4 linked regions of the Homo sapiens genome follow. The protein of the gene in region 2 purifies or fractionates together with the protein of the main gene of each other region. This does not show direct contact. Each region holds a gene or a part of one and is shown on either strand. Other genes may lie near its edges.

The links. Proteins that work in one complex are often made in the same cells at the same time.
Region 1: the proteins of COPS5 (region 2) and BTBD2 purify together in Homo sapiens (affinity purification with mass spectrometry; 6 studies listed by BioGRID and IntAct, with this or other methods). This does not show direct contact.
Region 3: the proteins of COPS5 (region 2) and DCAF4 purify together in Homo sapiens (affinity purification with mass spectrometry; 5 studies listed by BioGRID and IntAct, with this or other methods). This does not show direct contact.
Region 4: the proteins of COPS5 (region 2) and FBXO7 purify together in Homo sapiens (affinity purification with mass spectrometry; 4 studies listed by BioGRID and IntAct, with this or other methods). This does not show direct contact.

Annotation. Positions count from the first base shown.
Region 1 is NC_000019.10:1,995,215-1,998,714, forward strand, and holds part of BTBD2 (BTB/POZ domain-containing protein 2), read right to left. Parts: intron 2,250-3,500; coding exon 2,130-2,249; intron 1-2,129.
Region 2 is NC_000008.11:67,055,634-67,059,133, forward strand, and holds part of COPS5 (COP9 signalosome complex subunit 5), read right to left. Parts: intron 2,579-3,500; coding exon 2,450-2,578; intron 1,813-2,449; coding exon 1,747-1,812; intron 972-1,746; coding exon 886-971; intron 1-885. UniProt on the Homo sapiens protein: Probable protease subunit of the COP9 signalosome complex (CSN), a complex involved in various cellular and developmental processes.
Region 3 is NC_000014.9:72,932,964-72,936,463, reverse strand, and holds part of DCAF4 (DDB1- and CUL4-associated factor 4), read right to left. Parts: intron 1,442-3,500; exon of another isoform or gene 1,278-1,441; intron 1-1,277. UniProt on the Homo sapiens protein: May function as a substrate receptor for CUL4-DDB1 E3 ubiquitin-protein ligase complex.
Region 4 is NC_000022.11:32,495,311-32,498,810, forward strand, and holds part of FBXO7 (F-box only protein 7), read left to right. Parts: intron 1-182; coding exon 183-220; intron 221-2,833; coding exon 2,834-3,220; 3' UTR 3,221-3,500. UniProt on the Homo sapiens protein: Substrate recognition component of a SCF (SKP1-CUL1-F-box protein) E3 ubiquitin-protein ligase complex which mediates the ubiquitination and subsequent proteasomal degradation of target proteins and plays a role in several biological processes such as cell cycle, cell proliferation, or maintenance of chromosome stability.

The sequences.
Region 1 (3,500 bases), on a different chromosome or scaffold from region 2:
CCTCAGCCTCCCAAAGTGCTGGGATTACAGGTGTGAGCCACCGCGCCTAGCCATACTTTGGATTCTTTTTTTTTTTTTTTTTTTTGAGAGGGAGTCTTGCTCTGTTGCCCAAGCTGGAGTGCAGTGGCATGACCTCAGCTCACTGCAAGCTCTGCCACCTGGGTTCACACCATTCTCCTGCCTCAGCCTCCTGAGTAGCTGGGACTACAGGCGCCTGCCACCATGCCCGGCTAATTTTTTTGTATTTTTAGTAGAGACGGGGTTTCACCGTGTTAGCCAGGATGGTCTCGATCTCCTGACCTCATGATCCACCCACCTCGGCCTCCCAAAGTGCTGGGATTACAGGCCTGAGCCACTGCGCCTGGCCACTTTGGATTCTTCTAAGTATTTTACAGGTCTAGATCTTACATTTTGGACTTTGATCTATTTTTTTTTTTTTTGAGACAGAGTCTCGCTCTGTCGCCCAGGCTGGAGTGCAGTGGCATGATCTCAGTCCACTCCAACCTCCATCTCCCGGGTTCACGCCATTCTCCTGCCTCAGCCTCCCAAGTAGCTGCGACTACGGGCGTCCGCCACCATGCCCGGCTAATTTTCTTATTTTTTATTTATTTTTTCTATTTTTAATAGAGACGAGGTTTCACCATGTTAGCCAGCATGGTCTCAATCTCCTGATCTCGTGATCCGCCCATCTCAGCCTCCCAAAGTACTGGGATTACAGGCGTGAGCCACCGTGCCCAGCCTGGACTTTGATCTATTTGAGTTAATTTTTATATACAGTAAGGTAAGGGTCTAACTTCATTCTTCTGCATGTGTATTTCTAGTTGTGCCTGTGCTATTTGTTAAACTCTCTTTTCTGTTGAATGGCCTTGGCACCCTTGCAAAAAATTATTTAACCCTATGTGCAAAGGTATTTATTTCTGAGCTCTCTGTTCCATTCCATTGGTCCCCACGTTCTGTCCTTACGCCAGTACCACACTGTTTTGATGATTGTAGCTTTGCAGTGAGTTTTGAAATCAGAAAGTATGAGCCCTCCAACTTTGTTCTTTTTCAAGATCGTTGTGGCTATTCAGGGTCCCTTGGGATTCCATATGAATTCTAGGATAGTTTTTCTATTTTTGCAAAAAACAGTAATTCTGATAGGATTATACTGACTGCAGATCGCAGTGGGTTGTGTGGACATCTTAACAATATTCTCTTCAATCCATGGACATGGGATGTGTTTCCATTTATTGTGTCTTTTTAAATTTCTTTCACTGATGTTTCCTTTTTTTTGTTGTTGTTGTTATTTTTTGTTTGTGTACTCCAGCTTGGGCAACAGGAGCAAAACTGTCAAAAAAAAAAAAAAAAAGAAGGAAAGAAAAGAAAAGAAAAAGAAAAGCAGGGAACTGGCTGGACACAGTGGCTCATGCCTGTAATCCCAGCACTTTGGGAGGCTGAGGCAGGCGGATCACCTGAGGCCAGGAGTCTGAGACCAGCCTGGCCAACATAGAGAAACGCTGTCTCTACTGAAAAACACACAAATGAGCTGGGTGTGGTGGTGAACACCTGTAATCCCAGGTACTCAGGAGAATCACTTGAACCAGGAAGTCGGAGGTCTCAATGAGCTGAGATCACACCACTGCACTCCATCCTGGGCAACAGAGCAAGACCACGTCTAAAAAATATAAAATAAAAAGGGTGCCTCTGGGCTGGGCGCGGTGGCTCAGGCTTGTAATCCCAGCACTTTGGGAGGCTGAGGTGGGTGGATCATGATGTCAGATCGAGACCATCCTGACTAACACAGTGAAACCCCATCTCTACTAAAAATACAAAAAAATTAGCCGGGCGTGGTGGCACGAGCCTGTAGTCCCAGCTACTTAGGAGGTTGAGGCAGGAAAATCACTTGAACCTGGAAGACTGAGGTTGCAGTGAGCCAAGATCACGGCACTGCACTCCAGCCTGGGCAACAGAGCGAGACTCCATCTCAAAAAGAAAAAAAAAAGTGCCTCTGGAACCCCTCATTGCACAGGAACGTTCTAGAAATCTCCACCAAGCCAGGGCCTCTGAGCTGGTGTCAGACAGGGTCTACGTTCTCTGAGGTCCCCCTCCCCAGGCCCAGCTCCCCAGCAGGAAGCATCCGGAAGCATTACTTGAGCAGTGCGAGGAAGGCAGCGGGTTCCACGTCGGGCAGCTCAATCTCCGTGGATGTTGTGGCCATTCCCCCGTTGAACATGGCATCAAAGACGGCGCTGCCCACGGCCAGCACGAACCTGGTACGGGAGAGAGAAGGCCCTGGTTAAGCCCGTGGCCGCCACCCCACGGCCGGGAGGGCCAGCCCGGTATCCTGGGTGACCACCCCACTAGGGCTCCCTGCCAGCCTCCAGCAGGCATGTACCAGGCCCCCCGATGGCAGAGGCTTCTGGAAGGGGCCTGGGACAGCAGGAGGGTGATGCAGACGGACCCACGGCAAGGACAGGCAGGGCTAGGACCATGCCCTGGGCCACACAGGGCCTCACGCTCTGCCAGCCCTCACCATCCTCTCTCTTTCCTTCCAGGCGTCAGGCACGCACTCATTCACTCATTCCCATATGCATGCATTTATTCACACGTGTTCATTCACACATGCATTCACACATACGTTCATTCATGCATGCATTCACTCGCTCATTCACATGCATTCATTCACACAGGCGTTCATTCACTCATTCATTCACATATTCATTCATTAACTAATTTCCATGTACATTCACTCAACTCATACACATGCACTCATTCATTCATCCACACATGCATTCATTGATCCACTGATTCATTCCCGTGGGCATGCATTCACTTGCTCATTTATGACACATGCATTCATTCACTTTCTCATTCATCGCACACTCATTCACTCACCCATTCACACACACACACATTCGTTCATTCCCACATGCACTCATCCACTTAGTCTCATTATTCACTCATTCATTCACACTCGTCTACTCTCTATCACTCTCCTGCTCACGCATTCCCTCATCAGCACAAGCTTTCCCAGGGAGTCAGCTACAGGCACAGGGCCTGGCCTCACTGAGGGAGACAGACGAGGACCAAATGGCCGAACAGCCCCCACTGAGTGAGAGAAGAGAGAGGAGCGTGGTCCCATCAGGAACGCAAGGCCCAGGGAAGCCCTGTGGGGTCATCTGAGCCGCCACGTCCATGGGGAAGGGCATGGAGGCCCAGGAACAGCAGGAGCGTGGGAGGAGCGTTAGGAGGCAGCAGGGGTGGCCCCAGCTGGGAAAGCGGTGGCTGTGAGGACGCTGGGGGTTCTGCCCCGTGTGAAGCTCAGGCTGCCTATGGGGCCCACTCAGTGGCTCAGATCTTCGATATCGCCACAGGCAGGAGGGTGCGGTGAGCAGAGAAAGGCTGCTGGTGCCTCCCCAAGAGCCGGCTATGAACCCGCGTTTGGCCAGGTCTGTATGGGGTGGGGAGAACTCCACGGCTCCCAGGCTCAAGACGCCACTCTGTGCTGTCCATGTACAGTC
Region 2 (3,500 bases):
GAGGCGGGTGGATCACGAGGTCAGGAGTTTGAGACCAGCCTGGCCAACACGGTGAAACCCTGTCTCTACTAAAAATACAAAAATTAGCTAGGTGTGGTGGCACACACCTATAATCCCAGCTACTTGGGAGGCTGAGGCAGGAGAATTGCTTGAACCTAGGAGGCGGAGGTTGCAGTGAGCCAAGATCACGCCACTGCACTCCAGCCTGGGCAACAGAGCAAGACTATGTCTTGGGGGTGGGGGGAGGGTATGTAATACAGTGGTTTTTAGTAAGAATTCTTACACTTTTATAACTTTGACTTTTTAATATGGCTTCTTTAGTCTTTCAAATCTTTCAAAGATTAGAAAGAATCTTTGTTCAGTAGAAATTATATATTTTGAGGGCTGCAGACATGCTAGTGTCAGCTGGTCCTGAACCCATCTTTCACTTGTTATAATTTTATGTAGGCCAAATATCTTGTACATTAGAAAAAGTTTAGGTTGTTTAAAAGGCAAATGACATGCTAGTTTGAAACATTAATAAAAAATGCAAAAGAAAAAAATTTAAAAATGCAAACATTTACCTAAATTCATATACTATTATTGTAAAAGCTATCATGAAATGCATTTTGTCTATGCCTTTTGTCTCATCTGTAAAATAAGGGGCTTGGACTGGTTGATATCTAAGGTTTCTTTAGGCCTCCTGAGTGCTGGGACTACAGGACTGTGCCACTTCATCTGGCTAACTTTTATAACATTTTTTGTAGAGATGGGGTCTCACTATGTTGCCCAGGCTAGTGTCGAATTCCTGTCCTCAAGCAATCCTCTCACTGTGGCTTCCCAAAGTGCTGGGATTATAGGTGTGAGTCACCGTGCCTGGCCCAGATATGTTTTTAAATTACTTACTGTTTGCAGTGTACACCAAAATCTTCTATTTTATTAAGTGGAATAGTCTGGTACTCAGAAGGTCCTTCATCAGGAGGTTTGTAGCCCTAAACAAAAATGAGGTAAACAGAAGATTAAGAAAAAAAAAAAAAAAAATATATATATATATATATATATATATATATATATATATATATATATATATATATATATAAAAATGAGAAAAACATGTTTTCTATGGAGCTTTCTAATAATAGGATTATTAACTTTCGGAGGCAAATATTTAACATGAGCATTCTAATAAAAAAAAAATACTGTTTCTACTTTCCCCCCACCCAGTTTGGTGGCTGTAGGCTGGATTTTGCTTACAGATTTATTTTTCTTCTCCTTAGGTGATGTACTTTTGTTCTAATAACTATTTCAGATTGCGGCCTCCTGCCAGGGAAGGAAATAGACCTATAGATTTAGCTTGTTTTTTCTCTAGTACCTGGCAGAATGCCACAGGCACACAGATACTTATTAATAAATAAAGACTGCTTTTCCAGTAAAATTAACAATATATAACATAAATGTATTACCCTTTGCTAGGGACAGCTTGTGGTAGTTTACTATTTTGTAAATATTATTGAATTGTTTTAATAACAAGAGATATTGCTAATGTCTTTAATAATAAGTCAAATATTTGGAATTTAAAAAATGTAAGGACTTATAATTTTAAAAATTACTAAGCATTCCTACCGTCCCAGCTACTTGGGAGGCTGAGTTGGCTTGAGCCTAGGCGATGAAGGCTGTAGTACACTATGATCATGCCTGTGAATAGCCACTGTACTCCAGCCTAGGTAACACAGTGAGACTCTAACTCTTAAAAAAAAAAAAAGTTACCTTTGGGTATGTCCTAAAGGCGCCAAGATTCACTTTCCCTGCGGATATTGTTCTTGTTGGATCAATCTATAAGAAAGATATATTTAATATCTGCTGATATAAAACTGTATGCCTTTTATTTAAACATTATAAACCTAGAAATGTATACATACATATAACACTATATACATACATAATAACCAAATAAGAATAAACCAAAAAACCATAAAAGTTCAGTAAGAGGGTAATATAAGTGTCTCACAGCTAACTTAGAGATTCAAATTATTATAACATTTAAGAATATTATTTGAAGGTTTGCTCATCTATTTTTAAAAAGTTTTCTTTTGTCCTTTTAAGAGGTGAATAACTCCTACCTTCCTCATAAAACCTGGATTGCACTTAAAACACCCTGAACATAATAAGAGCTGCTCTAGCAATTCCTGCTTAACTCAGTTCAGTCAACACTGATTGAATGCCTATGATGAGCTGGCACTGAGACATAGATGCTATGACTACCCACAATTTACAGAGGGGAGAAGCAAGATACACAGTGGTTAAATAATTTGCTCAAAGTCCCAGCTTCTAAGAGATGGAATTCACATTGAAACCTAGGCAGACTGATACCAGAGCAATTTCTCTTTACTACACTATTCTTATTTCTCAGTATACTTGCTTCAGCAAATCTTCATAAAGAACTTAATTAAACTGGTTTTAAAATTCTTACCACCACTGCTACAAATGGTTCCTGGAACTGCTGATTGAGCATCTGAGTACTAACATCAATCCCAGAAAGCCAGCAGCCATAGCCAGGGTGGCTATGATACCACCCGATTGCATTTTCAAGGCGGCCAACCTAACAAATGAAGGGGCAAAAAAGTTTAAGATTACTCTTTAATTAATTTACAAGGTACCAGTACAATAAGGGTAACCAGTCTCCTTCCCATCTCCTTCTCCTCAATTACCCACTTTTCTCAGCCCAGATGCGAAATCTATGGGCAATTGCTTACCCTTACAGAGATATTCTTTGTATACAGAATACATATTCTTTGCACATACATAGATTGATAAAAACACACACAATAGCATACCACATAACATAATAATGTTTTACACTTTGTTTTTTCACTCAATAAACTGCTTTGGAGTTTGCTTCATATAAATCATCAATATATATGATGGTTATCTTTTTATTTTTTTTTCTTTTAAAGGCTGCCTGGCAGTCCACTGATGGATATACCATAATTTATTTAGCCAGTTTTATACTCAGGAACTGAGTTAGGTTGTTTCCAAATTTTTTATTTTAAACACGTATCTGATAATAAGTGTGAGAGTTTATTTAAAAAAAAAATAAAATCCATGCCATAGACCGGGTGCAGTGGCTCATGCCTGTAATCCCAGCACTTTGGGAGGCTGAGGTGGTGGATCACCTGAGGACAGGAGTTTGGGACCAGCCAGGCCAACACAGAGAAAACCCGTCTCTACTAAAAATAGAAAAATTATCCAGGCCTACTGGTGCACGCCTGTAGTCCCAGCTACTCAGGAGGCTGAGGAGGGAGAATTGCTTCAGCCCAGGAGATGGAGGTTGCAGTGAGCTGAGATCACGCCACTGCACTCCAGCCTGGGCAACAGAGTGAGTCCCTGTCTCGAAAAAAAAAAAACAACAACAACAAAAAACAAAAAAAACCATGCTATAAGTCTTATCAGGCTTTTAATCTCGTACATTTTACATATAAATCATTAAAATTTAAATATAAAATTTCATGTAAAGGGGATAA
Region 3 (3,500 bases), on a different chromosome or scaffold from region 2:
GCCTCCCGAGTAGCTGGGACTACAGGCACCTGCCACCACACCCAGCTAATTTTTGTATTTTTAGTAGAGATGGGGTTTCACCATGTTGGCCAGGCTGCTCAAGAACTCCTGGCTTCAAGTGATCTACCTGCCTCGTCCTCCCAAAGTGCTGGGATTACAGGCGTGGGCCACCAAGCCCGGCTCCAAAACTTTTATCTTATTCATTGTCCTAAACAATGGCTCCTGAACACCATGTGTGGGTTTCCCTATGGATCAGTTATCTTATACCCCAGCTAAAGAATACAGTTGTATTTATTAATAGTTAAGTTACAAGCTGAAAGGGACTGCGCACAGGAAGGGAAGCACGTGTGGCCAGTGTTAAGACTGGTAGGAAAATGGCTGCGTGCAGTAGCTCATGCCTGTAATCCCAGCACTTTTGGGAGGCTGAAGTGGGAGGATCTCTTGAGCCCAGAGTTTGAGACCAGCCTGGGCAATAGAGTGAGACCCCATCTCAAAAAGAGAAAAAGACTGATAGGAAAAATAAACTCTACTGACATAAAGATTATTATTATTACCAACTCTATAAAAAGGTCAAAATTTCTTTAGAGTGCATATTCTGTATATGAAATGATTCTAATTTGTTGAATTATGTAACAATGCATGAATACAGCAAAGAACACACGAACTGGTGAGTCAAAGACTTCAGATCACCCACAGGAGGCAGGACTGTGTCCCACTCACACCATTATTCTCAATAGGGGGCTGCACAATCAGCAGGACGCAGCCGATGATAAAATCACTGGCGAATGCCAATTTGGGCCAGGGAGAGCATGTGTTCACCCCTAACTCATACAGGCACTGCAATCTGGTAAGGGAGCCTGCCAACCTCAAGTAATATAGTTAGCAAGGTCAAGCAAAAATCATTTTAAAGGCCGGATGTGGTGGCTCACGCCTGTAATCCCAACACTTTGGGAGGCCGATGCGGGTGGATCACCTGAGGTCAGGAGTTTGAGATCAGCCTGGCCAACGTGGTGAAACCCCGTCTCTACTAAAAGTACAACAGTTCACTGGGTGTGGTGGCTGGTGCCTGTAATCCCGGTTACTTGGGAGGCTGAGGCAGGAGAATCGTTTGAACCCAGGTGGCGGAGGTTGCAGTGAGCTGAGATTGCACCACCGCACTCCAGCCTGGGCAAAAGGGTGAAACTCCGTCTCAAAAAAAAAAATCATTTAAAAAGTCACATACTAATAGAAGCCTTCCAAATACAGTAAGAGTTTAAAGGCTAGGACAAAGACAGTACCTTTCTAGTACTTTTAAGAAGCCTGTTCAGGGGTGGGGAGTGTGTCTTCTCTAAACACAAACACAGTTCATTCTCTATGGCCGCTTTATAGTCCATGTTTGCACTCATCACTCTGCATGACTGTTTGTTCATACTCCCATCTCATACTGGACGTGAGGTGAATTCTGTAAGGCAAACATCCTACTTTGTTCTTTTTTCTATTCCTAGCATCCATGACCTAGTTGGTGCTTAGTAAATTTTTGCTGAACTGAAGCAAAGCAAAACAAAACCTGTGGCTACTTTACATTTAAGTCCCAGGTAGCTTCTTTCTGCTCTGGGTTATTTCCACTTACTACTCCACACACATTTACAAAGCGCCCACTCCATGTGAGGCACTGGGGAGTGGGCAGAGATAATAAGCTGTGCTACCTGGCTTGGAGGCACCGATTGTTTAATATGGGAGACAGATGCACAGACCAACCCCTGCAGCACAGGATAAGGATGAAGACCCAGGTCTCTCCAGGTGTGGTGGGAGAGAAGGGAGTGACTGCTCCACATGCCTGGGCTGGAGGTGGGGGAGGGAGATAAGTGCAGTCTGAAGAATGAAAATGTCAGGCAAGCCCGGCGTGGTGGTTCACGCCTGTAATCCCAGCACTTTGGCAGACTGAGGTGGGCAGATCACCTGAGGTCAGCAGTTTGAGACCAGCCTGACCAACATGACGAAACCCCAACTCTACTAAAAATACAAAAATTAGGCCGGGTGCAGTGGCTCACACCTGTAATCCCAGCACTTTGGGAGGCCGAGACGGGTGGATCACCTGAGGTTGGGAGTTTGAGACCAGCCTGACCAACATGGAGAAACCCCGTCTCTACTAAAAATACAAAAATTAGCCAGGCATGGTAGTGGGCGCCTGCAATCCCCACTACTTGGGAGGCTGAGGCAGGAGAATCGCTTGAACCCGGGAGGTGGAGGTTGCCGTGAGCCGAGATAGCGCCATTGCACTCCAGCCTTGAGCAACAGAGCGAGACTCCGTCTCAAAAAAAAAAAAAAGAAAATGCCACGTAAGGCAGTGGGGGCGGGGGGCCTGCAGGCTGTTTGGTATGGCCAGAGCCTGAAGTTCAAGAAATGGGGGGGATGAGCCTGCAGAGGCAGACAGGGCATGATCATGAGGACTCTGGGTGTGCGAGGAGTGACATGATTAGAGCTGCTAAGAAAGGGCACCTGAAAGGCAGCGGCATGGGGTGACAAGTAAGAACTGCAGTGGCAAGCCAGGTGAGATGAACTCGCTTACACATTATGGACATGGTACTTGGGATAGCGGAGCCTGGATTTAGATTTAGGCAGCAAATTTCATGGGAGAGGTGGAGAGAGGAGTTGAGAAAGGTTAAGTGAATAACTGGTAGAGTCATGAGCAGGGAGACTAAGAATAAAGGAAGAACACTTTGGGGAGAGGAGAGTAAGTCTGATTTTGAACAAATCAATCTCAAGATGCAGGCAATGGGAAATACGGGTCTGAGAATACAGAGAGAAATTGAGCCTAAAGAGACAGATTTGAAAGTAAACAGGATATGGTGACATGGACTGGGACAAATGGCACCAAAGTGGTAATGGTATACAGTGAGAATTAGAGACTTTTTTTTTTTTTTTTGAGATGGAGTCTTGCTCTGTCACCCAGGCTGGAGTGCAATGGCACAATCTCGGCTCACTGCAACCTCTGCCTCCTGGGTTCAAGCGATTCTTCTGCCTCAGCCTCCCGAATAGCTGGGGCTACAGGCGCATGCCACCATGCCTGGCTCATTTTTGTATTTTTAGTAGAGATGTGGTTTCACCATAATGGCCAGGCTGGTCTCGAACTCCTGACCTTGTGATCTGCCCATCTCGGCCTCCCAAAGTGCTGGGATTACCGCACCTGGCCATTAGAGACAATTTTATCTAGTAATAATATAAAACCCAGTATGCATCACAGTTTGTAGATCAGTGCTTCTTAAGGATTATTTTGCCCACCAGGGGACATCTGGCAATGTCTGGAGACATTTTTGTTTGTCACAGCTCGGGAGAAGGAGGGGTAGGCTGCTACTAGCGCCTAGTGGGTAAAAGCCAGGGATGCTGCTAACCACCCTACAATGCGCAGGGCAGCTTCCACACATTCTTCAGCAAGAATTATCCAGGGCTGGGTGCAGTGGCTGATGCCTATAATCCCAGCTGCTCGGGAAGCCGAGGCAGGAGGATTGCTTGAGCCTAGG
Region 4 (3,500 bases), on a different chromosome or scaffold from region 2:
GTGTTTGAATTAGATAAGAAAGTACAAATGATATAGTGTGTGTTATATAAATGGTTAGTTTTTTTTTTTTTTTATGCTTAACGGGTAAGTTTCACTTTTCTTAGGAGAAAAACAAAACCCACTGTTTAATGCAGGACGAATGAAATGTTTTTAAATCCTTATTTTTCCCTTTTCCTTTGTAGACAATACTGTCAGAGTTCAAGACACAGATTGGAAAGAAGTAGGTATTTTTAAATATTAAGACTAATGTCCATAACACAGAAATGACTAGTGAATTAATATATTAAGGGTATATTTTCACTTTTATATGATGTAGTGAAATCTGTTTTAATTTATTGCTAAATTTCAGTAAATGAAAATGTTTTCAACTTTTACTTTAGACTCAATCCTTATTATAATTATATGGAAAAAAATGTTATCATTGTGTTATTTTTCATCTTTATTATAAAACATTCTTTTTTGCAACAAAATTTAAATGAGTTGTCTGTGCTGGAGTAGTCATCAGCTGTTCAGCTAGTTAAGATAGTACCTTATGAAAAGAATATATTGTATTGTTTCATAAGGTACTATTCTAATGTCTCTATAACAAAAACTGCAAGGTGGAGCAGCAAGTGCTGATGGAAAAGCTGCTGCAAGTTATCCAGAAGATGTAGCTAAAATCACTGATGAAGGTGGCTGCATTACACAACAGATTTTCAGTGTAGGTGAGACAGCTTTCTATTGGAAGAAGACGCCATCTATTTCATAGCTAGAGAGAAGTAGTCAGTGCCCAGCTTCAAAGGACAGGCTGACTCTTTTGTTAGGGGCTAATGCAGTTGGTGATTTTTGAAGCCAGTGCTTGTTGACCATTCTGAAAATCCTAGGGCCCTTAACAATTATGCTAAATCAGGCCGGGTGTGGTGGCTCACGCCTGTAATCCCAGCACTTTGGGAGGCCGAAGTGGGCGGATCACCTGAGGTCAGGAGTTGGAGACCATCTTGGCTAACACGGTGAAACCCTGTCTCTACTAAAAATACAAAAAATTAGCCGGATGTGGTGGTGTGGACCTGTAATCCCAGCTACTCAGGAGGCTGAGGCAGGAGAATCGCTTGAACCCAGGAGGTGGAGGTTGCAGTGAGCCAAGATCGCTCCATTGCACTCCAGCCCAGGAGACAGTGTGAGACTCTGTCTCAAAAAACAAACAAAAAAACAACAAAAAAAGGAATTATGCTAAATCTGTGCCTTTGCTCTGTAAATGGAACAACAAAGCCTGGATGACAGTACATCATTTATGGCATGGTTTACTGAATATTTCAAGTCCACTATTGAGGCCTACTGCTTATAAAAAATACTCCTTTTAAAATACTACTGCTCATTGACAATGCAGCCAGTCATCCCAGAGCTCTGATGGAGATGTTCAAGGAGATTAACGTTTTCATGTCAGCAAACAACTGCATTCTGAAGCTCATGGATCAAGGAATAATTTTGACTTTGAATCTTATTATTTAAGAAATACATTTTGTCAGGCCATAGTTGCCAGAGATGGTGATTCCTCTGATGGATCTGGACAAAGGAAATTGAAAACCTTTTGGAAAGGATTTAGCCTTCTAGATGCCATTAAGCATACTGAGGATTCATGGGGGAGATAAAAATATCAACAGGAGTTTGGAAGTTGATTCCAATCCTCGTGGATGACTTTGAGGGGTTCAAGACTTCAGTGGAGGAAGTGCAGATGTGATGGACCTAGCAAGAGAGCTAGAATTAGAAGTGGAGCCTGAAGATGGGACTGAATTGCTGCAGTCTCACAGTCAAACTTGAATGGATGAGAACTTGCTTCTTACGGATAAAGAGAGAAAGTGGTTTCTTTTTTTAAAAAAATGTCAATAGTTTTTGGGGTACAGGTGGTTTTTGGTTGCATAGATGAGTTCTTTAGTGGTGATTTCTGAGATTTTAGTGCACCCGTCACCCAAGCAGTGTACAACTGTACCCAATATGTAGTCTTTTAGCCGTCACCTCCCTCCCAGCCTTTCCCCCTAAGTCCCCAAAGTCCATTATGTCATTCTTATGCCTTTGCATCCTCATAGGTTAGGTCTCACAAGATTTGGTTTTCCATTCTAGAGTTACTTCACTTAAAATAATGGCCTCCAGCTGCATCCAAGTTGCTGCAAAAGACATTATTTCATTCCTTTTTATGGCTGAGTAGTATTCCATGGTGTATATATGCCACATTTTCTTTATCAGTGGTTTCTTGGAATGGAATCTATTCCTGGACAACAAAGGATTTCGAATATTACATAAATTTAGTTGACAAAACAGAAGCAAGGTTTGAGAAGGTTGACTCTGATTTTGAAAGTTTTACTGTGGGTAAAATGCCATCAAACAGCATCGCATGTACAGAGAAATCTTTCATGAAAGGAAGAGTGAGTCAATGTGACAAACTTCACTGTTGTATTATTTTAAGAAATTGCCACAGCCACTTCAGCCTTTAGCAACCAGCACCCTGATCTGTCAGCAGCAACGAACATGGAGGCAAGACCCTCTATTAGCAAAAAGATTGCAACTTGCTAAAGGCTCAGGTGATTGTTAGCATATTTTTAAATTAAGGTATGTACATTGTCTTTTTAGATACAATGCTATTGCACACTTACTATAGTGTAAACATAGCATAGCATTTATATACACTGGGAAACCAAAAAAATTTGTGTGACTTGGTTTATTGCATTGGTTTGGGACTAAATCCACAATATGTCTGAGGTGTGCCTATAGATCTTTACTATGAAAGCAAATTAGAACTAAAGGGAAACATCCAGATCACTTACCTTATCTTGTTCTTTTATTTTTCTTTTTTCTACAGCTGTACAGGAAGAGGCACATACAAAGAAAAGAATCCCCGAAAGGGCGGTTTGTGATGCTCCTGCCATCGTCAACTCACACCATTCCATTCTATCCCAACCCCTTGCACCCTAGGCCATTTCCTAGCTCCCGCCTTCCTCCAGGAATTATCGGGGGTGAATATGACCAAAGACCAACACTTCCCTATGTTGGAGACCCAATCAGTTCACTCATTCCTGGTCCTGGGGAGACGCCCAGCCAGTTTCCTCCACTGAGACCACGCTTTGATCCAGTTGGCCCACTTCCAGGACCTAACCCCATCTTGCCAGGGCGAGGCGGCCCCAATGACAGATTTCCCTTTAGACCCAGCAGGGGTCGGCCAACTGATGGCCGGCTGTCATTCATGTGATTGATTTGTAATTTCATTTCTGGAGCTCCATTTGTTTTTGTTTCTAAACTACAGATGTCAACTCCTTGGGGTGCTGATCTCGAGTGTTATTTTCTGATTGTGGTGTTGAGAGTTGCACTCCCAGAAACCTTTTAAGAGATACATTTATAGCCCTAGGGGTGGTATGACCCAAAGGTTCCTCTGTGACAAGGTTGGCCTTGGGAATAGTTGGCTGCCAATCTCCCTGCTCTTGGTTCTCCTCTAGATTGAAGTTTGTTTTCTGATGCTGTTCTTACCAGAT